Linked DNA regions of Homo sapiens. The protein of the gene in region 5 purifies or fractionates together with the protein of the main gene of each other region. This does not show direct contact. Each region holds a gene or a part of one and is shown on either strand. Other genes may lie near its edges.

Region 1 (3,500 bases), on a different chromosome or scaffold from region 5:
AGCTGCTTGTGGCCTCACCTCCCGAAGCTCACATGGGACTCCTTGGGCCCATGAAAAGGGAAACAGGACAATTTCCAGGATGGCTGCCCAGACTTCGTCAGGATCCTTTTGTGGGATGGCTCATGCATGCACACAGTTCACTCAGAGCACAGAGTGGGTCAGCCCACTACCAGGGCCCTGCCACCAGCGCCAGGTTCTTCTCTGAATGCTGTCACTCTTGGCAACATGGGCTTAAGTCCCTGTTGGTATAACTCCATTTTCTTGTGTCTTCACTTTGCAGAGGAATGTTTGCTGGGGGATTGAAGGAGATGGAACAGGAAGAGGTCCTGATCCACGGTGTGTCCTACAATGCTATGTGCCAAATCCTACATTTCATATACACCTCCGAGCTGGAGCTCAGCCTGAGCAATGTACAAGAGACACTGGTGGCTGCCTGCCAGCTTCAGGTGAGGCATGTCTCATCTAGCAAGGCAGACCCACACCCAGGTGGGGTTCCCTGAGATGCCCATGATGCCTGCCGGGCACTAGCATTGGCTTGAAGATGGGTCAGGAATGTGAGGAGACCAAGCAGTGACGAAGGCCATGAAGTGGGGAAGACTCTGGAGTTGTTCCTGGAGCTCAAGCAGAGCCGCTCTAGACACCCCAGGCCTCTGCCTTTGCCCTCTTCTCTATTGCTGGTTGTTTCCCCACTGTCTGAGTCTCCCTGTCATTGAAAGCATCCTGCACATAAGCAGGTAGGCTGACCCGAGGCTGCATGTGGACGTCCTGTGTGCTCTGGGGTCTGGCAATGGGGAGCATCCACCAGCATTGCTGCCAGGGCCCTTCCTGCCTGTCCCCTCACTGGGCCACTTCAGTCTCTTGAAAACTTATGTGTTTTGTTACTGAACTTTATCTATCTATTTGTCTGTCCATCCATCCATCCATCCATGCATGCACGCATCCATCCATCCATCCATGCATGCATGCATCCATCCATCCATCCATCCATCCATCCATCCATCCATCCATCTATCCATCCATCCATGCATGCATCCATCCATGGTGGCAGGCATCCATCCATCCATCCATCCATCCATGCATGCATCCATCCATCCATCCATCCATCCATCCATCCACCCATCCATCCATCCACTCATTCAATTTATTGGAGACAAGCTCTCTCTCTCTTGCCCAGGCTGGAGTGCAGTGGCACGATCACAGCTCACTGCAGCCTCAACCTCCTGGGCTCCAGCAATCCTTCTGCCTCAGCCTCCCAAATAGCTAGGACCTATAGGCATGTGCCACTACACCTGGCTAATTTTTAAATTATTTTTATAGAGATAGAGGCTTGCTTTGTTGCTTAGGCTAGTCTTGAACCCCTGGCCTCAAGTGATCCACCTCAGCCTTCCAAAGTGTTGCGATTACAGGTGTGAGCCACTGCGCCTGGCCTATTTTTTTTTTTTTTTTAAAGACAGGGTCTCACTCTGTTACCCAGGCTGTAATGCAATGGCATGATCATAGTTCACTGTAGCCTCCACCTCCTAGGCTCAAGTGGTCCTCCCGCCTCAGCCTTCTGAGTAGCTGGGACTAAAGATGCGTGCCATTGTGCCTAGCTGATATTATATATATATATATTTTTTTATAGGAATGGGGCCTTGTTATGTTGCCCAGGCTGGTCTCAAGCTCCTGGCCTCAGGTGATACTCCCACCTTGGCTTCCCAAAGTTCTGGGATTACAGGTGTGAGCCTCTGTACCCAACCTGTTATTGAACTTTAAGTACTTGTTTTCCTGCAGAATTCAAAAAGTTTTCTGAGGCTTTGACAGTGTGACTTATGTTTTGGATGATTATTCTCAGTGGTGTGGGTGCAGTTACACGGGACTGGGCCTGCAGGTGCCTTTGAGCTATCAGGCAGAGGCCTGATAGGAGTTGACAGTCACCTCTTCCCACATTTCTTAAAAGTGAAACAAAATGCTATGCTAAGTTCATCATTCTGACCTTTCTTCCCATGAGAGCAGGTTTGACGCAATTAAAAAAAAACAACTCAAGTCACAGGAAAACCAACCTGTTCGGGGGCATGTGGAGGTGCCACCCCATGTGACAGGGCCCTGGCAGCCTCCCTGTGCCCTGTTCTCAGATTGGTGGATAGGACCTGGATGCTGGGTGGGTTGATCTGAGATGACTGACTTGTCTCACCATACCTGCATGGTGAGTAGATGGAGTTGGCTTTTACAACAAAAGAATTTCCCCCTGTTCTTTTATTTAGAGATCTCTTCTGTCCCCACATCCCTGTCATTGTTGCTTTGGGAACCCTCATCCAATTCTCCACCCTGGCAGCAGTTAACTCCTGATTCAGCTGCCTCTGAAACATCTCCCCCAGCATGGCTCAGGTCCAGCTGTCCTATCTCCTCCTCCACACCTGCCACTCTCCCGGAGCTCCCCTGTCAGTCCCCCTGCTCTGTGTGTCCTGTGACCATCCTGCCAGTTCCCTGGGCTCAACCTCAGTGGCTCCTTGAGCCCGTCCACCTTCTTAATTCCCTGCGTCCATGTGAGGACAGGTCATCCTTCTCGGTATTGCTTGTAGCCATCTCTGTTCTGTGTTTCCATTTCCTTCCCTTTTGCCTGGCCTCCATCTGTATGTTTCTGCCATTTCTTTCTTCTCCCTGCAGTGATCACACACACTGAAACCAGATCATCTTTCTAACATCACTTTCCCTCTCTCACCAGTCAGCTTGGAGGCCTGCAGTCTCTCTCTGTTGGTTTGGCCAGTGCTCCCGACAGCCCTGGGTCATCTCCCCCAGTGCCTCAGAGGTCATCTCAGAGGCAGCAGCCTATCTTAGTTTTTTAACATATCAGGCTTCTGGGCCAGGCTTGGAGGTTCATGCCTGTAATCCCAGCACTTTTGGAGGCCAAGGTGAGAGGATTGCTTGAGGCCAGGAGTTTGAGATCAGCCTGGGCAACAAAGCGAGACCTCTACAGAAGCACTTTAAAAATAGCCGGGCATGGTGGCATGCACCTGTAGTTCCAGCTACTCGGGAGGCTGAGGTGGGAGAATCACTTGAGCCCAGGAGGTGGAGGCTTCAGTAAGCTGTGATCACCACACCACTACATGCCAGCTTATCTCAAAACAAAAAACAAACAAACAAAAAAAAACAGGCTTCTTCACAATATTGTTTTATAGCAGGTTTTACTTGGCATAACCATGTCAAGTCCATAGGCCTGTAGAATCATGTATGTTCACATAGCTAGTGACTTTTGGAGGCTTCCCCCATGTGTTGTGCCCTGCAGTAGGCCTGGGACCAGATTCTTCACGGTGTCCCCAGAGGCCTGAGTCTGATTCCCAGTAACACTGTCCTATTGGGTTACCCCAAGCAAATGCAGTCCCTTCTGTGAGCCTCGTATGGGGCTTTTGCACATCCTGAGCCCAGGCTGGTTCCTCTGTGAGATTTCACTGAACAGAAGGCCCACTGCTCTAAAAATAGGACTGAAAGGAGAGTCAGCAGGGTCCTCTCAAGGAGCTGCT
Region 2 (3,500 bases), on a different chromosome or scaffold from region 5:
AGTGCTCAGTTACAGTTCCTTTTGCTTTTAGTCTTACACTCCCTCCTCATTTCCACATTACTTAGGTACTTCCCTCCCCACCCCTCTTGGCGGAGTTGTGTCCTATATGTGTAATACAATTGGTTTCTTCTGCCTCAGCCTGCATTCCATAGGGCCTCATCAGTTATTTTTAAAATCGCATATATTAAGGTTTGCTCTTTGTGCTTTAAAGCTCAGTGGATTTTGACAGAGGCATCCACAACTACAGTACTGTACAGAACAGTTGCACTGCCCCAAGAAATCCCTGTGCTTCACCTTCTAACTCTCCACAACCACTGGTCTCGTCTCCATCTCGGAGGTTTTTCCCTTTCCAGAATGTCATATCATTGGGTTCATACAGTCTGTAGCCTTTTCATACTGGCTTCTTTTGTCTAGCAATATCCATTGTATCCATTGAGTGGATTGAAAGTTCATTCCTTTTTTTTTTTTTTTTTTTTTTTTTGAGACGGAGTCTTGCTCTGTCGCCCAGGCTGGAGTGCAGTGGTGCGATCTCGGCTCACTGCAAGCTCCGCCTCCTGGGTTCACGCCATTCTCTTGCCTCAGCCTCCCGAGTAACTGGGACTACAGGCGCCTGCCACCACGCCCAGCTAATTTTTTTGTATTTTTAGTAGAGACTGGGTTTCACTGTGTTAGCCAGGATGGTCTCGATCTCCTGACCTTGTGATCTGTCTGCCTCAGCCTCCCGAAGTGCTGGGATTACAGGCGTGAGCCACCGCGCCCAGCCGAAAGTTCATTCCTTTTTCTTTTAATGGTATTTATCATGTGGCTATACTGGTAAGTCGTTTAAGTTTCTTAATCTGTAGGTTCTCTCTTCATTCCTTTCTTACAGTTTTTTGCTTCTACTTTATCTGTTGAAAAACTTGGGCCTTGTGACTTGTTGACTTCCCTATAGTCTGGATTTTGCTGTTTGCATACTCAACAGTGGAAGTTCAAAGTGTTGTGGTTTGTTTTTTTTTTGTCCTATTTCCTACAAATTGGTAGCAGGGTCTCCTATTAAGGCTTTTCCTGTATTTAGCACACAGACTTGATCACCTTGGTATTAAGCGGATGGAAGCTTAGGTAGGAAGTAAACTCAGTTTTCAAGGATTAAAATGACCCGCCTAATGGATATGTGAGTCTTTTTCTTGCCTCTTGTTTTATGTTGGCCAGTACCTGTAGCAGAGGGTGCTGAAGAGTAGAAATTGAGATAGAATTGAGTGTGAGTTTTATTATTATATGTTAGCAGCTCTGGTAAGAAACTCAGAGAATTAAGTGAGAATGGTAGATTAAAATGAGGCTTTAGGATAATGTGATTGCTCCCCATACATGTGTAATTGACAGTTGTGTGAGGTGAGCTCAATTTAAAGGAAGACTAGCCTAAGCTGGTCAGTACCAGGAGGATTTTGCCCCAGTTTGCTTCCGTCCAAGTGTGTGTCCCTCAGCACAGCATCTCTTGGGCTTCCTCATTTCCTGTTTATGATAATAGAGTACTCACCCCCATCCTTGAGGGATACATTCCAAGACCTCCGGTAGTTGTCTGAAACCACAGATAATACTGAACCCCATTTGTATTACGTGCAAACTTTTTTCCTTCATAATTTCATGGATAGATTTGTTCTTACTGTAGATCTTAGCAACCTTGTTATTTGATATTGTTTTCTTATTAAGAATTTTTACCTTTTCACGTAAAAGAAGCCCTTTATGGCTTTTCTTTGGCATATCCAAATTGCAGCATCAGTACTCTTGAGCTTTGGGGCCATATTAAGCCAAATAAAAGTGGCTTGTGTTCACTTTTATCCGTGATCACATCCGCAACAGTTGATGTGATCAGCAAGACAGCTACCAAGTGACTTAACGGGCAGGTGGCCTAGATGGCACGGAGAAGCTGGACAAAGGGATGGTCATGGGACAGAGCGGGATGTCACTCAGTTTCATCATGTTTCTCAGAACGGCGGGCAGTTTAAAGCTTATGAATTGTTTATTTCTGGCATTTCCATGTTACTATTTTCAGACTGAGGTTGACTGTGGGTAACTGAAACCACAGCAAGCGGAACTGTAGGTAAGGGAGGACTGCTGTGATATTTTATATTTCATACGTAATTTCCTTCTGGTTTTGGTAGTTGGGATACACTTTTTAGGTAGGCCTGGCAAGTAAGTCTCCTGACCTGTCCAAGGACATCACCGGCAACTGCTGGGTCCCAGCCTTGAAATGAGGTCAGTCTGAGGTCTTGCCTTTGCTGAATGAAATTACCCCTTCTGTAAATTGAAAGGTCTGGAGTCGCTGTACCCTTAGATTGATTTTGGCTCCGAGATTGAGGGGCCTGAGTCTGGAAGCTGAGGTTTTTGAGGTTGGGGAACTTAATTTGAGAAGATTATCTAATTTTGGCAAAGTCTTTAGCTTTTTAGTGCCGTATTTTTTTTTTCATATAAAGGATAGAATATTTAGGCCGGGCACGGTGGCTCATGCCTGTAATCCCAGCACTTTGGGAGGCTGAGGTGGGTGGATCACTTGAGGTCAGTAGTTCAAGACCATCCTGGCCAACATGGTGAAACCTCATCTGTACTAAAATACAAAAAGTTAGCCGAGCATGGTGGCACGCGCCCGTAGTCCCAGATACTCGGGAGGCTGAGGCAGGGGAATCACTTGAACCCGGGAGGCGGAGGTTGCAGTTAGCGGAGATTACGCCACTGCACTCCAGCCTGGTGACAGAGCAAGACTCCTTCTCAAAAAAAAAAAAAATTATACCTGTCCCTTCACTTATGTCAGTGTTTGAGTCCTTGAAAAAGTCACTGAAGAGAATGCACAAGAATTAAACTTACCTTCCTAAGATGCTCAGGTTTTAGACCAGTAGGAAGTCATGGGTAATGTGTGAAAAGTGCACTAGCTCTTAAGGTGGTGTGTCATGTTTGCACACTTTTAAAAGCTGGACTCAAAATTCAGTGTACTGTTGAGTCATCCCATAGGGTAAGTCTGGTTGACTACAAGGGCTCTGCCCCTCTTGCTCCTCCGCATCCTTCTTGGGGTGGGAGGTAGTGTGAGTGGGGAGATAAGAGGACAGGATATTCAGAGGAATATTCTTAATATCGGGACCAAATTAATGAATTTGGCAGGGTGTTTCTGTACTGCATAAGATCAACAACAATTAAATAATTGATCCTCTTCTAATTCCTGTCACATACAAATCCTAGTTATGTTTCAGGATTTGCTTGCAGTCTACTGAATCTACTTGAATTAATTTATAGGAGAAAAGGATTTAATTCAGAAATCATTGCAAGGGCTATGGAGTAGTAGATTCTAGGTTGAATTTCTAGGAAAACCCGCCAGCCTGGGGAATCCTGCCTCTGCAGGAGCCACCACACCAGAAAGTGGTGTGCTGGGCTGCTTAAACAGTGCCACCCCTCCACGGTCCATGTCAGCCTGTGGATGCCCCCACTGGGCCTCTCTCCTTAGCTTACTCACCAACCGCATCGTCTGCAAATGT
Region 3 (3,500 bases), on a different chromosome or scaffold from region 5:
CACTGTGTGCATGCACTTAACATGCGGGGACACAGATGTTTCTGAGTCCTCTGTCCCTAAGAAGACACGGGGTCCCTGAGGGCAGGGTTGGTGCCTCGTTTATTTCTGCAGGCCACAGTACCTGGTGATGGTGGCACTCACAGAATGAGGACAGAGGACAGGAGGGGAACCAGCCTGTGCCTTGCTCAATGTCCCACTTTGGGTCTGTGTCATCTCTGTAGGGGCACACAGGTAAATATTTATTCCTAGCCAAACCACAGGCAAAGCTGACTTAATTTCCAAAAATAAGCTTTTTTGGTAGTTCTTTCAAATTCTACTCATAGGCCCCAACTCCTAAAACTTAAGGAAATGTGGCGGCAGGGGGCGGAGTTCCATTTTGTTATTCTCTTCTCCCACCTTCTGATTAGGACTCACCCCCCACCCCATTGCCACAGCAGCTAAGCCAGTTCGGTCCACCTTTCCCTTCAGCACGAGAGGCTGGGAGGCTTTCATCCCAGCACGCACAGCACTGGTTTCATGGAACACGCTTTGCCCCACGGGTGTGGACGGCCCTCCTCCTTCCACAGGCCTCCTCCCAACCTTCCCCTTTAAAACCCACCAGCCAACCATGGAGGCGGCGCCCCTGGGAACCTTCCCAGAGAGGCATGAGGCATGAGGCACGACCCTAGACTGAGCCCAGAGAACGTCCCAAGGCCTGACAAGGAGACAGCAGAGCTGATGACAGGGAGAAGTGTTGCTGTTTTTTCTTTCCCTGATGTTGAGGAACGAAGACAACTGATTGGGAGCACATGGGGAGCACGGACAGGACCAAGACAGGGACGATGATAAAAACAGAACGCTTCTCTGCCTCCAGCAGGGGCATCCGGAGACCCTGACGGGCAAGCAGGGCAGAGTGGGAAAGGAGGGGAGAGAGAAGAGGGCAGTGCCAGCAGGAACAGCCAGACCCACATGCAGGACATTCCGAGAGACAGCAGCAAGCCCTGGCCCCGCAGTCACCAGCCACCACCCTGAGCAGGCTGCAGGCTCCTTCCTCCCTGGCTCAACACGCAGACCTCCCCTCTTGGGAGAGGAGAGACGGCAGCAGGCAAACAGGATACATGGACATCGTGAAGCCTGCTGCGGCTGCCTGAGACAGGCCTTTCTGAAGGCAACTCAGTTCACCTGTCCAGGCTGACCTCCTTCTTCAAAGGCAATAGGATGGCAGTACAGGAGGGTGGGCTGCTCTTTGCAAGCAGCAAGCCCCACCCCTGGGCTGAGCACTTGAGAAGGGAGAAGAGGTGTAGGGCCCTATCTGAGACTTTTCAGATGCTCAGTACCCAGCGGAGGGGGGAGGCTGCTGGACCCAAGGACGGAAGGAGCCTGCCCTGGAGGAGTCGGGCTGCAGGGTAAACCCAGATCCCGGGCATGCATTGCAATGGCCAGGGGGAGAGCAGAGGCAGGTGTACGGGTGGGAGGCCTCCGTGCGCCTGCAAAACTAGGGAAGCTCTTCTCTGAGCTGAGAGGATTCAGCCCTCAAAGCTGGGGCAGGATGTGGCACCAGGCAGGCAGGAGCCCATTCTTCCAGCTCTCCTGCCTCTGTGTCTCCCCAAGCCTGGAAATGCATGCTCCCCCCGTGCCCGTGGCGAGGGCAGGACATCGAGAGGAGAAGTTACAGTGTGTACCTTCCAGAACGGTCAACCATGCAGAGTGATGGGAGAGTCCGATAGAGTTACCCGCCAAGCACGTATACTCCCCTGCGTCCTCAAAGGAGACATTTCTTAAGTGAAGCACCTCCATCTCTTTGTCGGTGGTATTAACTCCAGCAGTCTAGAAGAGACAACGGAAGCAAAATGGACAAGCACAGGACATGAGACCTCTAAGAGACGCAGAGCAAGGGAAGGAGACAGAAAGAAGGGGGACTAGAGGAAGAAATGCTCCCTGACATCTTCTTTGCAACAAGGAACAAACGAAAACCACCAGGCAGCAAAACCTGTTAGAGGAAGAGGGTGAGACCCTGAGGGAAGAACTCCGGCAGACCTGAGAAGACGATGGCTGGTTACGACCCTTCACCAGATGCTGGCAGCCACTGGCCCATCCGAGCATGCGGGCGGTGAGCGGCATGGAGAAATGGGGCCGGCGGGCAGGGGCTGTTTGGTTTCAGGTAAAGATAGCCAGAAGGTGAACACAGGAGGGATGGCGGGGGCTGCAGACACACACATGCACACGCATACACACACGCACATGTGCATACACAGCCAGCAGATGCGAGTATGCAAGGGAATGCCTAACCCCTTCTCTCTCTTTTTTAAGAGATGGGGTACCATTCTGTCAACCCAGGCTGGGGTGCAGTGGCATAAACATAGCTCACTGCAGCCTCGACCTAAGCTCAGGCAATCCTCCTGCCTCAGCCTTCAGACTAGCTGGGACTACAGGCACACGCCACCATACTTGGCTAATTTATTTAATTTGTAGAGATGGGGTCTTGCTATGTTGCCCAGGCTGGTCTCAAACTCCTGGCTTCAAGCGATCCTCCCACCTCAGCCTCCCAAAGTGCTGGGATGACAGGCGTGAGCCACTGTGCCTGGCCTATGGCCCCTTCTCTTAATCACCACTCACTCACAACTTCAGTCTGAAGTACCATTTGTAACACAGCAAAACCGTGTCCCCGTGAGTCCTCACATGGATCCACACAAAGCCAAGGAACACACAGAAGGCAGAGAGGGAACCCACAGACACCAACACAATACCAAACCAAACCAGCCTCCCAGGCCGGGTATTTTTCCATGGCTCTGGGCACTAGAAATACAGTAGGGTGGCAAGGACAGTCCAGTACTGGCTTCCCCGCCTGCCCCAGCAGCTTGGGGCCTACATCAAATCCCCAGCACAGGGTCCCATCCATCTCCCCATTACCTTTTGCCACAGGTCTGGTGACAGTGAGCCACGCAGACTGGTTAGCTTCACCAATATAATTGGAAACCTTACACACATACTCCCCGCTCTGGGCCTCTGTCACATTGAACAGGGTCAGCACCTCCGCATCCGAGCTATTAATCCCCGAATGCTGGAACAAACCAACGACACACCAGTCAGTTGGGCAAAGCTGAGATGTGGCCACGCACGTTGCTCCCGTGTAACTTTCAGGCAGGCCCAGGGAGCGAAGGGAGATGTTAAGTGAGATTTATTACCTTTCCCTTTTAGTTTTTTTTTTTTTTTTTTTTTTTAACGCAGAGTCTCACTCACTCTGTCACCCAGGCTGGAGTGCAGTGGCGTGATCTCAGCTCACTGCAACCTCTGCCTTCTGGGTTCAAGCAGTTAGCTTGCCTCAGCCTCCTGAGTAGCTGGGACTACAGGTGCCAACCACTATGCACAGCTAATTTTTGTATTTTTAGTAGAGATGGGGTTTCACCATGTTGGCCGGGCTGGTCTCAAACTCCTGACCTCAAGTGATCTAAAGTGCTGGGATTACAGGCGTGAGCCACTGCGCCCGGCCTTCTTTCCCTTTTACAAGTACAGAACAAGTG
Region 4 (3,040 bases), on a different chromosome or scaffold from region 5:
GGTTCTAAATGGTTGGAGTATCTTATACAAGGAAAATTCTATTCTTAGCTGATTTCTTACAATTACTTCATTGGTTAGCTTCATTTAAAGCTCTTAAAAATAGTGGCTCTTCTGTTAGAATAATCCTATAATCTTTGGTTTTTAAAATATTAACATTCCTCTGAATTTTTACTTATTCTTTCTTTTATTACAGATAACAAAATAATGAACAATCAAGATGCCATAGAAAAGGCTGTTAGTAGAGGCCAATGTTTATATAAAATATCAAGTTATACCAGCTATCCCATGCATGATTTCTACAGGTAACTTAGAAATATATTTGAGTCCTGAAAAGAGGAAGACTGATTTCCTTTTTAAATTAGCAATGCCTAGCATTTTTGGCTATTTGCCGGTGTTGAGACTATAACTAACTGAAAATTTTATCATCAATCTACTTGAAGATCGTGTTTAAGACTGTAACTGTGGGTAGGCGTGGTGGCTTATGCCTGTAATCCTAGCACTTTGGGAGGCTGAAGTGGGAGGATCACTGGAGCCCAGGAGTTCTAAACCAGCCTGGGCAACATAGGGAGACCCTGTCTCTACAAAACAAAACAAAGACCATAACTATGGAAAAACCTAATGCTACAGTAACTGATGTCATTCATGTAACTCATGTTGTGTAATGTTTTCCTAGAAATTTCAAGGTAAAGATGTCGGGGTTAAGTGTTTGATATATCCCAGTCACTGTGACAGTTTTGACTCTTCACGCCTCCAAAAATTGTTTTCAGCCCAGAAACATTTGAGAGGCTTTTAAAGTGGAAAGAACTGCCTTTATACAATTTACAAATCATTTCTCTTCCCTCCGAAGACACAGATGACAGGAAAATCACTTACTCCATTAAAGTTCCTTTTCAGAATTAATCTGGGCTGGAGCCACAAAGAATTTTGTTTTGGTCCTCTTAAAGCCAAAGGTCATAGTAATATATAAACAGAATGGAATGTTTTGCATTAATGACATGTTTGAGAAAAGTAATTTAAGCTTTTGCTTTTTAGATGTCATACTTGTAACACCACAGATCGAAATGCCATATGTGTGAACTGCATTAAGAAGTGCCATCAGGGACATGATGTAGAGTTTATTAGACATGATAGGTATGTAGCACACTTGCTTGATATATTACCCAATTACTTTCCCCCTCACTTTTCTAATATTTGGGTTTCATTTTGCTTTAGGTTTTTCTGTGACTGTGGTGCTGGAACACTGTCTAATCCTTGTACATTAGCTGGTGAGCCTACACATGATACAGATACACTATATGACTCTGCTCCACCTATAGAATCTAATACATTGCAGCACAACTGAATTCCTTCCCTAAAGAAAAAGTCCTGCCATTGTAACATCATAACTTAAAACACTTTTTTGGAAGAAGATTTAAAATATTTGCCCATGCTACAGGAAGAGACTGTATTAAAAATGGATACACAAGGTCAGTTGACACTATGAAGCTCAAGCTACCAAAAAGAAAGTGGCAATATATTGACTCAGGATCTCAAAGCTGGGTGTTTTAGCATTACTGTGTAAAGACTTGAAGGGACAGAAGTGAAGAAAATAAGCTGCAATTTTGTACAGATACCAACTTCTGAAAAGCTGGTGTTTTTACAACTAGCATTGAATGCAGTCCAATTTGCAGTAGTAATCTTCAATAGACAAGCAGCTTTGTTGCTGCCTTTATGGACATGGGTACCAATTGCTTTTGTAATATGGTAAAAATGTGAGCTAGCACTTCTGCGTTCCTTTTGATTTTTTTTTTTTAACATGTATTCAGATTGAGAAATATGATTTTAATGCTTTAATCTCATGTAGTTTGTTTTTAATTTCAAGCAAAATCTTACTGTACTTGAATGTGCCCTGTTTTGTTAGCACACCTAGACTTGCTGTAACTGTACTCATGTCCCAGTATGTACGTTCTTTCTATGAAAGAGAAAACACTAATCTTAAATTATATCCAGCAATGTTTCTGGTATCCTTTAAGAAAAGTTAAGACTATTATTTCCTTCCCTTCCCTGTGCAGCATTCAAAATCACCCCTAGAAAAAGTGAGTGTTTTAATGAGACTTCCTAGGAAGGGATGCACTGTAAAACAAAAGTATTCTTGTAACTCAGTTTTGTGAAAGGTAAAAAACTACTATGTTTTAAGTACACTTTAGAAAGTCTCTTCAAAACAAACAGTCCTGTATTTGAACTCTGTTCATAGTTTTTTTTTGAACAGTTTAGACAAAACTGCTGGAAATTAAACCAATTTCCTGCATTAAGCTGAGACAAGTATATATACAGCCCTATACAGTTTCATAGCTTTTCCTCCCCCATTTATGTGTATTGGTGACAGTGGGTATAAAACAGCCTGAAAGTGTATGCATGTACCATAACATCTAGACTTAATATATTGTGGAGTATTCAATAACCATTATGTAGAAGGTAGATAAGAATTAAAAGGGTTTAATTTCCTAGAAAGAAAATGGAAAAATGGTCATTTTTAAAAAATAAAGTTTATTAGATCATAATGTTGTCTGAATTTACCACCTTTGTCAGAAGTCAACTCAAAGCTTCCAATGTAGTCAGTCTATAATTCCTTAATCAAAGTCAGCAATTTATGGACAGCTTCAGCATCTACAGTTGACCTTTCACTAGCCAGGCAAACTTCCCTTAAAATTAAAAAAAAAAAAAAAAAAGTTTTTTTGTTTTTTCATAGTGCATCATCCCTTCCCCTTTTACTGTTTCTTTGAAACTTAAGGTCAGTTAGTTATAATTCCATTATAGTTAGTTAGTTACCGAAATAATCGTAGTGACTGATTCATCTTCTCAAATTCTCTTGCTTTTCTATGTCCCTTTTGAATAACTTCCTCTGGGAGATTAGCAAGCCTTGCTGCATTAAAGCCATAGCTTTTAGGACAAGCTCCCTTAATGAATTTATAGAGGAACGTAATAGTCTCCTGGCTGGGGTCTTCACATTCATTTTCTACCATGCATGCCTTAAGAAAGAAAAATATTAGCGATACATGTG
Region 5 (3,500 bases):
ATTTGACACTTCACCCTGCCTGGCTGTCACCACTCCTCTTCCCCTGCCTTCTGCTGGGGCTCAGACAGCTTCAGGCCTCGAGCCTGAGAAAGTGCCTGCCCAGAATTGGGCCCAGGGGTTGAATGGTGGAATCTACATTGCGAGGGGACCTGCAGAATCATCCTGTCCACTGCCCATCTCGAGCGCCACCAGGCCTCAGCCATCTCAGACATGGGATGGGGCTGGAGTCTCTTCGTTCAGCAAGTATTTGTGAGGCATGTAGCCAGGCACTGAGGGCAGACAGCAGTGAATGACCAGACAGACCTCTGCCCTTCAGGAGCTTTTAGTTTATTGTCTGGGGATGCAGTAAAATAGACTCATAAAGGAAATGGCACATTGGAGGCTGGTAAGTGCTAAAGAGAAAAAACAGGGAAGGGAAATGGAAGAGTCAGTTGGGAGAGGGGGAGTTTGTTATCTTGTGCAGGGTGGCTACAGAGACCTCACTGAGAAGGTGATATCTGAGGAGAGATGAGGGGGTGGCACCACAGTCGGGGCAAGCTGGGCAGAGGGGACAGCAGGTGCAAGGGCAGGGATGCAGGGCTGTGCCTGGAGAGTCAGAGGCGGCGTGGAGGCTGGCGTGGCTGGAGTGTGGTGAGGGCAGAGAGTTGCAGGAGATAAAGTCAGAGGGTCAGGAGGAGGTTAGCTCTAGGAGAGGTCTGGAGCTGGTGAGGAGGGGGATTTTTTCCTCAGAGTAAGATGGGCTCTTGCAGGGTTGGAGCCTGGGGCGGCATGATTTGACTTTTTAACACCACTGGTCGTTGGCCATCCATTCCAGCTTTTCCCTCAGCGGCTAGTCAGGAAGTGCTGCCTGGTTGCCCTCTGCAGCCATTGGAGCTGTTTCAGCCAATCAGTACATCCCCACCAAGGATGCTCTGAGCACTGTCCTAGGCAGTGTGGGGTGTGAGGTTGGGAAGGAAATAAAAAAGCACAGGACACAGTCTTTACTGGTAAGGAAACCTACTGATCAGCTGGGGAGGCAGAACTTACACTCACAAGAAATAATGAGGGAATAATACCAGACAGTATTTAAAACCGAGTGCTAAACTGTGTGATTTAGACTATAAATGTTATCAGAACTGTGAGCTCTGTGTGGGAGTTATATAGGGAACGCTTCCTCAGGGGGGCGCGGCTGATTTAGGCTTGGAAAATGGAGTAGATTCGACTCTGCAGTGGGAAGGATTCTCGCACGGAGAACTTGGAGCTGGCAGGGTGAGAGGAGAGAAGGGTGGTGCTGCTGGAGGGGAGGTCACTGAGTGGGAGTAAGGCAGCCCACGTGGCAACGTGCAAGGGCAGGGTCTTCTGTCTCTGAGCAGTCCCTGCCTCCCACCTGGGTTTCCAATGCCCCCTGTACTCTTTCCAGAGACACGGAAAGCCACCCTTTCCAGAAGGAAATCCATTATCCAGTGTCCTTGCCCTCTCCTGCCCGAGACCAGATGATCTCTGATCTTGGAAGTCCTCTGGCTTCATGGAGTCCCATTTCCAGCTCCGGCCGTTGTCCCAGGTCTGCATGCTGGGAATCTCGGCCTCTTAGTTCACTGGTGTCTGGAGCCATGTTCTCTGGAATTCCCTTAGGCTCCATGTATCTACCCAGGCTGCAGCAGCTTCTCTTCTCCCTTCCTTTCACTGCCTGGGTGGGCTCCTGTTTGGTAGGTTACTCCTATAACATTCCTGGTCGTTTCAGATATTGTGAACTGGAAATAAAATTGCACCAAAATGAGCAAACTTCCACCCCCATGAGGGGTGAGTGTGTCCTCTCCCTGGATCTTGGGGATATGAACTCACCTCTGAAGTATAGAGAGAGATCACCAGAGTGGAGTAGACTAGGATCCATTGGTAGTGCCCTCACCCACCCAAGACATGGGGGGCGATGCTCTCCTCCCTGCCCCCAGCCCCCATGAGAAAGGGGGGCACACCCGCTGTACCCCAGCACAACCCCCTGGAAGACGCAGAGGCTGACCCTGGGGCTTTTGTCCTTATGGCTTACAATCCAGAGGAAGTGGAATCAGTTGGCATTGGGTCAGAATTCACAGTCCCTAGCCACCTGCCCTTGGGCATCTTAACCTTTCCGAGCCTCAGTTTCCTCATCTGTAAATCTGAGTTAATAACATCCACTTCCTAGGGTTGTTAATAATAATAAGAGCTAACGTTATTGAGTGCTTATGAGGTGCCAGAAGCTTCACTGCATTTGTCTCATTTCGTCCACATAACGCTGTGAAGTAGATATTATTTTCCCCCATTTTGCAGTTGAGGAAACTAAAGCCTGGAGGCCATGCACAGCCAGCAAGTGGCAGAGCCAGAATTCAGCCCCCAAATCTTTCTGACTCCAGAGCCCTGATTCTCAACTACCACATTAAATGAGCTAATCTGTGTAAAGTACCTGCTACAAAGTAGAAGCTCAATAAATGTTAGTTCCTTTTCTCAATTTCCCCAGGGCCACTCCTCTAGAGAATAGGGTTCTCCTACCTCATCACATTTCTTTTCCGGGATCCCCTGGGACATATGATAGAAGTGGGAATGGGAATGAGCTGCCAGTTTATACCGAGGGAAGAAAATAAGGCTAAGAGAGGTGAGTAATTTGCATAAAATCATAAAACACCGGGGCTGTGATTAATGCCCAGGGCACCTTGCTCATAGAAGTTATTGAGCCCCACTGGGTCCCAAGCAGTTGGCAGAGGGTGTCTTGCAGAGATGAGAACAGAGGTTATGCTGTATGGAAGAATGAGAGGCCATCATCTCCCCCAGGGTCAAGAAAGAGCCTGTCTCACCTGCAGAGGCGAGAGTTGATCATTATGGGCCTGGAAAGTTGCTAGCAGAAGCAGTACAAAGCTCAGAAAGGTCTAAGATCCTATGTTTTCTGAGCTTAGCTACTGTATCTAGAGTTTGTTCTAAACAATCTGGGACTGTTCATGAATCTTGGAAGAGGACAGTGTTGAAGGTCAAAGTGTGGAAAGACAAGATGCTATCTCACCTTTATGACTGTTAGATTGGCATGCCTTTTGCAACAGGTAAAGTGTGCATGGGTGGGTACACACACACACACACACACACACACACACACACGGCTCCATGTAACCTTGCATGGAAATAAAAATGAGCAGACAACTGCAGGGTCATCTGAATTTCAGGGTATATAGGGAATGGAGGTGAAGGAGCTGAGACAGGGCCATTCCCCTAAAACAGTCCTCATTCTTTCCTCCCCGGAGACCTCTTTTCTGGTGGGCATAGAGACCCATCTCTCTGCACAGCCCACAAAACAGCCTAAGCCTGCCAACATTCACCTCTGATGGGCAGACCCAGAGTTCCTCTGCATATCCCCCATGGAGAAAAGGAGAAGAGCTTAGGTCATAGTGCATCAGAACTGATGGCAACAGGAAGCGCTCTGGTTCTGTGGCTTTCAAACATTTACAGAAGTTAATCCATTTTTCAATGTATGGTAGGCAGAATAATGGGCCCCCTAAGAT
Region 6 (3,500 bases), on a different chromosome or scaffold from region 5:
TCTGGGATCCACCTCTAAGAATACGTCTCCAATGAGAAACAGTTTTGCACATTCATTATCTCCCACCTTGGAACATAGTAGCTTGTTCAGTGGTTCTTACTCCAGCCTTTCTCCAAACCCTCTTAATTCTAGAGCAGTTGAAGACATCTCTTCATCGAGGACTAACCCCTACAGTTATGCAATGAGTACTGAAGAAGCCAGATTTCTTACCTACCATATGTGGCCATTAACTTTTTTGTCACCATCAGAATTGGCAAGAGCTGGTTTTTATTATATAGGACCTGGAGATAGGGTAGCCTGCTTTGCCTGTGGTGGGAAGCTCAGTAACTGGGAACCAAAGGATGATGCTATGTCAGAACACCGGAGGCATTTTCCCAACTGTCCATTTTTGGAAAATTCTCTAGAAACTCTGAGGTTTAGCATTTCAAATCTGAGCATGCAGACACATGCAGCTCGAATGAGAACATTTATGTACTGGCCATCTAGTGTTCCAGTTCAGCCTGAGCAGCTTGCAAGTGCTGGTTTTTATTATGTGGGTAAGAAGCAAATAACTATACATTTTATCATTTTATTTTAATTTACATATTAGAACATACGTGTTTTCAATATTTAGTCTTTTTTTTCCTGAAGGTCGCAATGATGATGTCAAATGCTTTTGTTGTGATGGTGGCTTGAGGTGTTGGGAATCTGGAGATGATCCATGGGTAGAACATGCCAAGTGGTTTCCAAGGTAATTGTTTTGAAAAAGGTATTTGTACAAAAAACTCTGTGCTTAAAAGAAGTAGGCATGCCTACATGATTTTGTTTACCTTTAAATTATAACAAAGCCTCTTTTATGCCATTGGGGAATTATCCTTCTAAAAGATCACATTTTAACTTTAATTATTTTGTTGAAAAATATTCTGCAGTCTTCTGTGTACTTTTGTAAGTCAGTTACAAGTATGACCGTACATTTTATTTATTTCCCATTTCTTTTAAAGAGTACTTAAGGATTACAAAGACATATAAAATAGATTAAAAAGACGTTAGAAAAAGGTAAGAACAGGAAAACAAGAAGGGACATAGAATGGATGCAGGAATAAGTCAAATGTAAAAGTCCATGTATTAAGAGCATATCTTAGATGGGCGTGGTGGCTCACACCTGTAATCCCAGCACTTTGGGAGGCCGAGATAGGTGGATCACCTGAGGTCAGGAGTTTGAGACCAGCCTGACCAACATGGTGAAACCCCGTATGTACTAAAAATACAAAAACTAGCTGGGCGTGGTGGCGCGTGGCCGTAGTCCCAGCTTCTCGGGAGGCTGAGACAGGAGAATCGCTTGAGCTCAGGAGGCGGAGGCTGCAGTGAGCCAGGATTGTGCCACTGAACTCCAGCCTGGGTAACAGAGCAAGACTCTGTCTCAAAAAAAAAAAAAAAAAAAAAAAGAAAAAAGCATATCTGACTGCCCATTTTAATTGTAATTGTAAATTATTTTTTCTGTACAATTTTTTTTTGTCATTTACCTCCTTTTAGCCACTTTGTCTCTAGCAGTGTCTTTTTTTATTATAGCCTAGAAATAATTTAGGGGCAGTGTTATTAGTAGAAATAGAATTAAATTGTCTTTGTAATTGAGTAGCTATGTGAACTTGGACGTTGTTTGTAAAATGAGGAGGGGTTGGCCTAGATAATTTTTTAAAATAGTGATAAAATAGGCATAACATTTACCATCTTAACCATTTTTTAAGTGTATAGTTGTGTGTCATTAAGTACATTCTTAACCGTTCTGCGATTATACCGCTATCCATCTCCAGAACCTTTGCATCTTCCCAAACTGAAACTGTCTACCCATCAAGTACTAATTCACCATTATCCCATTCCCCAACATCCTGGCAACCACCATTGTCTTTCTCTTTTTTTTTTTTTTTGTTTTGTTTTTTTTGAGACGGAGTCTCACTCTGTCACCCAGGCTGGAGAGCAGTGGCGCGATCTCGGCTCACTGTAAGCTCCACCTCCCGGGTTCACGCCATTCTCCTGCCTCAGCCTCCCGAGTAGCTGGGACTACAGGCGCCCGCTGCCACGCCCGGCTAATTTTTTGTACTTTTTAGTAGAGATGGGATTTCACCATGTTAGACAGGATGGTCTCGATCTCCTGACCTCGTGATCCACCCACCTCAGCCTCCCAAAGTGCTGGGATTACAGGCGTGAGCCACCGCGTCCAGCCCTTGTTTGTTTTTTTGAGGTGGAGTCTCACTCTGTCATCCAGGCTGGAGTGCAGTGACACGATCTTGGCTCACTGCAACCTCCACCTCCCAGGTTCAAGCGATTCTCCTGCCTCAGCCTCCTGAGTAGCTGGGATTATAGGTGCCTGCCACCATGCCTGGTTAATTTTTTTGTATTTTTAGTAGAGACAGGGTTTTTAGTAGAGACAGGGTTTCACCATGTTGGCCAGGCTGGTCTTGAACTCCTGAGCTCAAGTGATCTGCTCACCTTTGCCTCCGAAAGTGCTGGGATTACAGGCATGAGCCACTGCCCCCTGCCGCACCATTCTATTTCTGTCTCTATGAATTTGACTACTCTAGGCATCATATATAAGTGGAATCATACATCACAGATTATGTTTTTACCTGTGAGTGTCTTTCACAATAATGAAGAATCTCTTGAACCCCTTCAGGAAATTTAAAAAGTTTTCGTCATTTTGTATGATATATGATGAAAAAGAAACTTGAAGTAACAAATACTTTATTATGGATCAGTACATTGTTAAAAGTTGTATTTTAAAGTTATTAATATTAATAATATATCAAGATAAATTTTGACTTTTTTACACTGAAAAATGACTAAATTATTAATTATGTTTAAAATTAAAAAGCATGTTTTATCAGACTTTTAAATGACTTAATTATGTTGGGCTCTATGGGATTATATACATTAATTTGAAATTTAATCCATGTTGTGGTATCAAAGACAAAAACAGCTTCCAAATTCCAGTGTTGGAACTGCTACATTTTGTACCTTATAAAACAAAATCAAAATCTTTATTTTTGTAACTTGTGTTTTGTTTTAAATGATTAAGGGAGAAGATGTAGGGGCGTGTTTTGTAAATGCTTCTCTGAAAACAACACATTTCTTTTTTCCTTTTTTTTATTTTTTTGAGACAGTGTCTCATTCCATCACCTATCACTGCTGGAGTGCAGTGGCAAGATGGCAGTTCACTGCAACCTCCACCTCCTGGGTTCAAGCCTCAGCCCCCCGAGTAGCTGGAATTATAGGCACACGCCACCACACTCAGTAGTTTTTGTATTTTTAGTAGAGACGCAGTTTCGCTATGTTGGCCAGTCTAGTCTCAAACTTCTGACCTCAAGTGATCTGCCTGCCTTGGCCTCCCAAAGTGCTGGGCTTACAGGCATGAGCCACTGAGCCCAGCCCACATTTCAACTGGGAATAATCTTTAATCTCAGTAAATCCATCACCTTATGTAGTAACTTTCTTTTTTTTTTTTTTTTTTTTTTTTGGTGAGAACT
Region 7 (3,500 bases), on a different chromosome or scaffold from region 5:
GGAAACACTCCATTACTTCTTCTTTATTTTCTTTTTTTTTTTTTCTGTTTCTGTGCTCTAAATTAACCTTTCCTGGAACTTGAGATAAAATATGAGGTTTGGGTTATTTTCTATGTGGTATAAAGAAGCTATATCTAGGCCTTTATCTTAACTGAGCAAGGACTATTTAACCAGACAAGGGAATGGAAGTATTCCTATGATACGTATGTCATGTTACATGTGGGTAGTAGTAAAAAATGCATGTGAACACAATGCTTGCCTGGCTTTGTTCTCTGTTCGTGTAGCTGCTGAAGGAGTCCCCTTTTTAACACAAACTACATTTGAGAACTATAACTTTGGACAGTTTGTAAAATCTATAATTCACAGAAGTTCTAATATGATGAATGCATTGAGACTTCTGTAGCTGATTACGTAAATATTTGCAAACTTAAAAATGAATTATTTCAAAAGTTCATGAATTCTGTATTTAATCATAATACTTTAATTGTTCCCTTACAGAGTAAATCAGATAGCATTATATATGCAATGATTCATACAAGGCATCCCAGTAGAAAAGACACACATTTAATTTAAGCTATCTCTGATCTCATGTGAAATGTATATAATCGAATATGAAATTATTCTCTTCCTTTTTAGCATCTAATGTAAGTAAATGTATTTGAGAATATAGAGGTAAAATATTTTTGCTTCATGGTTATTTCAAATTTAAAATATTTACTTATTATAATATAGTATTTAGAAAATACATGGACTCATTATTAAAGGCAACGCTTTGGTAATATGGTGTATTGTTGAACTTTGATTTAAGAACTAATTAGAGAGCAATTTGTTATGTTACATACTAGTCTAAGTCATTTCTTTTTGACTGTTTGATTATTATACATACACTTTTAAACTTTTGAGTACACCATTTTCACTAAGTCCTATTTTGAAGAGAACAGATGTTTTTAAACACACACAGATACATAAATGCTCACATGCAAACACAAAATAAAATGCAATTGAAGTCTCTACAATTAATCAGCTATATTGGCTATATTTTACAATTTAAAAAAATAAGTATAGCATGATCTCCCAGACTTCAGTGATTTAAAATGTACATTTCATAGAGATACATATCTACTTGCTGCAACTCAAATATTCCTATCACATATAGAAAACAATTGGTCATATTGATTTTCCTAGAAGAAAAAAAAAGTTTCCAATTTCATCAGTTATATCACATGAATTATAATGAAAAATAAATTATTGGTTTTCTTTAAGAAAAGCAAGCATTTAAAATTAACATTGCATATATTCCTTCTTTGTATTCATTTTCCATGATTGGAAGTTTTGTTATTACATTTTTTTAAAGTTAATGTATTGTATCCTACAAGATCAATGAAACTATTTTATTGATAATGTAGTTAGAGGTGTAAAAATTATTGTCTGTGTATTTACTTGGCAATATAGCATGTGAGATGGTACTGAACAAGGATGGAAAACCTCTCTGTGAAACTGGGATATTCAACCAACTTTGATATCTTTTATTTTTGAAGTTCTCAATTTCCTCTTTAAAATGCAAGGGTTCAAATAATTTTTTCTATGGTTCTTTCTAGCTCTTACAGTCTACATGTATGTAAGGAATAATATATATTTATTTAAATTGTGCATATTTATCCAAATGTGATGCTGCAAAATAGCATACATAGAGATTTCAGAGTGGGAAAAAGGAAGACCAAAGACACTAAGCATCCCCTTTTACTTATTTTCTTCTCATATCCTTCTGATATTGGGTACAGTAATAAAATCCAAAAATAATTATACATGTAATATGCTCTCAGTGGCAGCAGCATAGGGTCATTTAGAGAAACTTGAGTCCACCTCTTCCCTTCCATAATCTCCATCCTGCTCCTTCAAAAACACTCCAAATAAACATTCAATCTCAATCTACGTAACAAGAGTGTCCAGGCACTGCTGACCTGACTTCAGGACAATTTCCTTAGCCCTCTTTCAAACAAGATGGCTGCCCCTAACTCCTACAGGATTCTCAAACTGCCACAGTATAATCTGAGAATTTGCAAAATGCAACTTCAGTTATATTCAGTATATTAGTCACATAGCTTGAAAGACTTTCAAATTGCTAAGCCAATTTATTTACCTGACAGAGGTACAGAGAGTCCAGATTACCTCCTTAGGGTCACACTTCCAATTGTAGTGATGAAAGATAAACTCAAAACCTTTGTTACTACAATCACATCAGTGTTCTCCTAACGGGTAATGTTCATTTTTTGATTCTTCATTAATTCTTCTTCATTCAGTGAATTTTAAGAGTTTTGAAAAGCTTGTTACAAGTACAGTTAATGTCTACATTGTTTGACTGTATCAGGAGACATTTATTTATTCTTTACGGATGCCAAATGCTTTTGACAATCCTAAAAAAATAAAACAGTGAACCGACAGTAGTGGTAAAGAAATTGCACTTTAATACATAAGAAGATAAGTTCAAATGGCATTGAACTGGGTACAAAATTCTACTTATTTAATTTTCATTATAACTTTTAAATTAGCATTCTTGAATATTTGTCATATCATTTGCATTGTTAAAGTTTATTAAATTCAGGATAGGTGTAAGCCCAAAAATATGTAACTGAAATTAAAGTGTTTCCTCCAAACAACAGAGAGAACTTGAAATAATGTTATTTGCTGCATTAAATGTGAGACATACATAGATAGTAGCTAGATCAATAGAGACACATGGATAGATATATTTAATTCTGTAATTTTGAAAATCACATTTTTTTCAGAATTTTCTAAAAAGACATTAAGTAGGTAAGTTTCAAACATGTAACATGCATTTCAGGTCACCTATTATCAAATTATTATATAAATTCTGTTCACTCACCACCCTCTACCATAATCCAGTTTTAGAATTGTAAAGTTACATTAATCACACTTCTCTAACTGCAGAACAGTTTACACCAGTGGTAACCACAATAATTGTCATGTGCACTATTAGTCATTCCTAAAATTTTAACATAATATTCTGCTAATTCTTGGATATAACTAGCAATATTTTAGCTTTTCACTTACTCTCCAGCATTATTAAAGAAAAATGTGCATTTGCAGAACTCTGCACCTGCATACATTTGGATTCCTGCATCCTACTAGTAATACACAGGAAAGATATCATGGCATTCCATAAAGAATAAAGCAAAAAAAGTTATGAATAGCTCAACCTTCCAATATCACATCTAATTAGCATTGTTTTCTTTCTAAATTAAGTGTATTTAGTAAATAGTAATCATGCCTTGAGTTCCATAAAATATAAGACCATGTGGTCAACAAAATCATCTTTATGTTGCTATAGTTACAAGAGTAGGCTTGTAAATTTTATGTTAATATTAAAAGAAAAGAAAAACATGTTTGCCTTCACCAACAGCAACTGAAAGCAAATGCAGGTATACAGCACTTTATTAGAAAGAACCCCTTTAGTAAGCACATGTAAGAGGAATTAATCA

Evidence for each region.
Region 1: the proteins of LRRN2 (region 5) and KLHL22 purify together in Homo sapiens (co-immunoprecipitation; one large-scale study listed by IntAct). This does not show direct contact.
Region 2: the proteins of LRRN2 (region 5) and USP22 purify together in Homo sapiens (affinity purification with mass spectrometry; 2 studies listed by BioGRID and IntAct, with this or other methods). This does not show direct contact.
Region 3: the proteins of LRRN2 (region 5) and FGFR1 purify together in Homo sapiens (affinity purification with mass spectrometry; 2 studies listed by BioGRID and IntAct, with this or other methods). This does not show direct contact.
Region 4: the proteins of LRRN2 (region 5) and FBXO11 purify together in Homo sapiens (affinity purification with mass spectrometry; 2 studies listed by BioGRID and IntAct, with this or other methods). This does not show direct contact.
Region 6: the proteins of LRRN2 (region 5) and BIRC2 purify together in Homo sapiens (co-immunoprecipitation; 3 studies listed by BioGRID and IntAct, with this or other methods). This does not show direct contact.
Region 7: the proteins of LRRN2 (region 5) and PTPRD purify together in Homo sapiens (affinity purification with mass spectrometry; one large-scale study listed by BioGRID and IntAct). This does not show direct contact.

The regions. Positions count from the first base shown.
Region 1 is NC_000022.11:20,468,296-20,471,795, reverse strand, and holds part of KLHL22 (kelch-like protein 22), read left to right. Parts: intron 1-280; coding exon 281-446; intron 447-3,500. UniProt on the Homo sapiens protein: Substrate-specific adapter of a BCR (BTB-CUL3-RBX1) E3 ubiquitin ligase complex required for chromosome alignment and localization of PLK1 at kinetochores.
Region 2 is NC_000017.11:21,033,012-21,036,511, reverse strand, and holds part of USP22 (ubiquitin carboxyl-terminal hydrolase 22), read left to right. Parts: intron 1-3,500. UniProt on the Homo sapiens protein: Deubiquitinase that plays a role in several cellular processes including transcriptional regulation, cell cycle progression or innate immunity.
Region 3 is NC_000008.11:38,420,136-38,423,635, forward strand, and holds part of FGFR1 (fibroblast growth factor receptor 1 isoform 1 precursor), read right to left. Parts: intron 1,807-3,500; coding exon 1,662-1,806; intron 1-1,661. UniProt on the Homo sapiens protein: Tyrosine-protein kinase that acts as a cell-surface receptor for fibroblast growth factors and plays an essential role in the regulation of embryonic development, cell proliferation, differentiation and migration.
Region 4 is NC_000002.12:47,806,420-47,809,459, reverse strand, and holds the end of FBXO11 (F-box only protein 11), read left to right. Parts: intron 1-193; coding exon 194-302; intron 303-873; exon of another isoform or gene 874-937; intron 938-1,032; coding exon 1,033-1,131; coding exon of another isoform or gene 1,132-1,212; coding exon 1,213-1,342; 3' UTR 1,343-2,540; downstream 2,541-3,040. Other genes in the region: DNA mismatch repair protein Msh6, read right to left, coding at 2,600-2,681, 2,809-3,008. UniProt on the Homo sapiens protein: Substrate recognition component of a SCF (SKP1-CUL1-F-box protein) E3 ubiquitin-protein ligase complex which mediates the ubiquitination and subsequent proteasomal degradation of target proteins, such as DTL/CDT2, BCL6, SNAI1 and PRDM1/BLIMP1.
Region 5 is NC_000001.11:204,675,739-204,679,238, reverse strand, and holds part of LRRN2 (leucine-rich repeat neuronal protein 2 precursor), read left to right. Parts: intron 1-3,500.
Region 6 is NC_000011.10:102,350,214-102,353,713, forward strand, and holds part of BIRC2 (baculoviral IAP repeat-containing protein 2), read left to right. Parts: coding exon 1-536; intron 537-630; coding exon 631-730; intron 731-3,500. UniProt on the Homo sapiens protein: Multi-functional protein which regulates not only caspases and apoptosis, but also modulates inflammatory signaling and immunity, mitogenic kinase signaling, and cell proliferation, as well as cell invasion and metastasis.
Region 7 is NC_000009.12:10,606,503-10,610,002, forward strand, and holds part of PTPRD (receptor-type tyrosine-protein phosphatase delta isoform 1 precursor), read right to left. Parts: intron 1-3,500.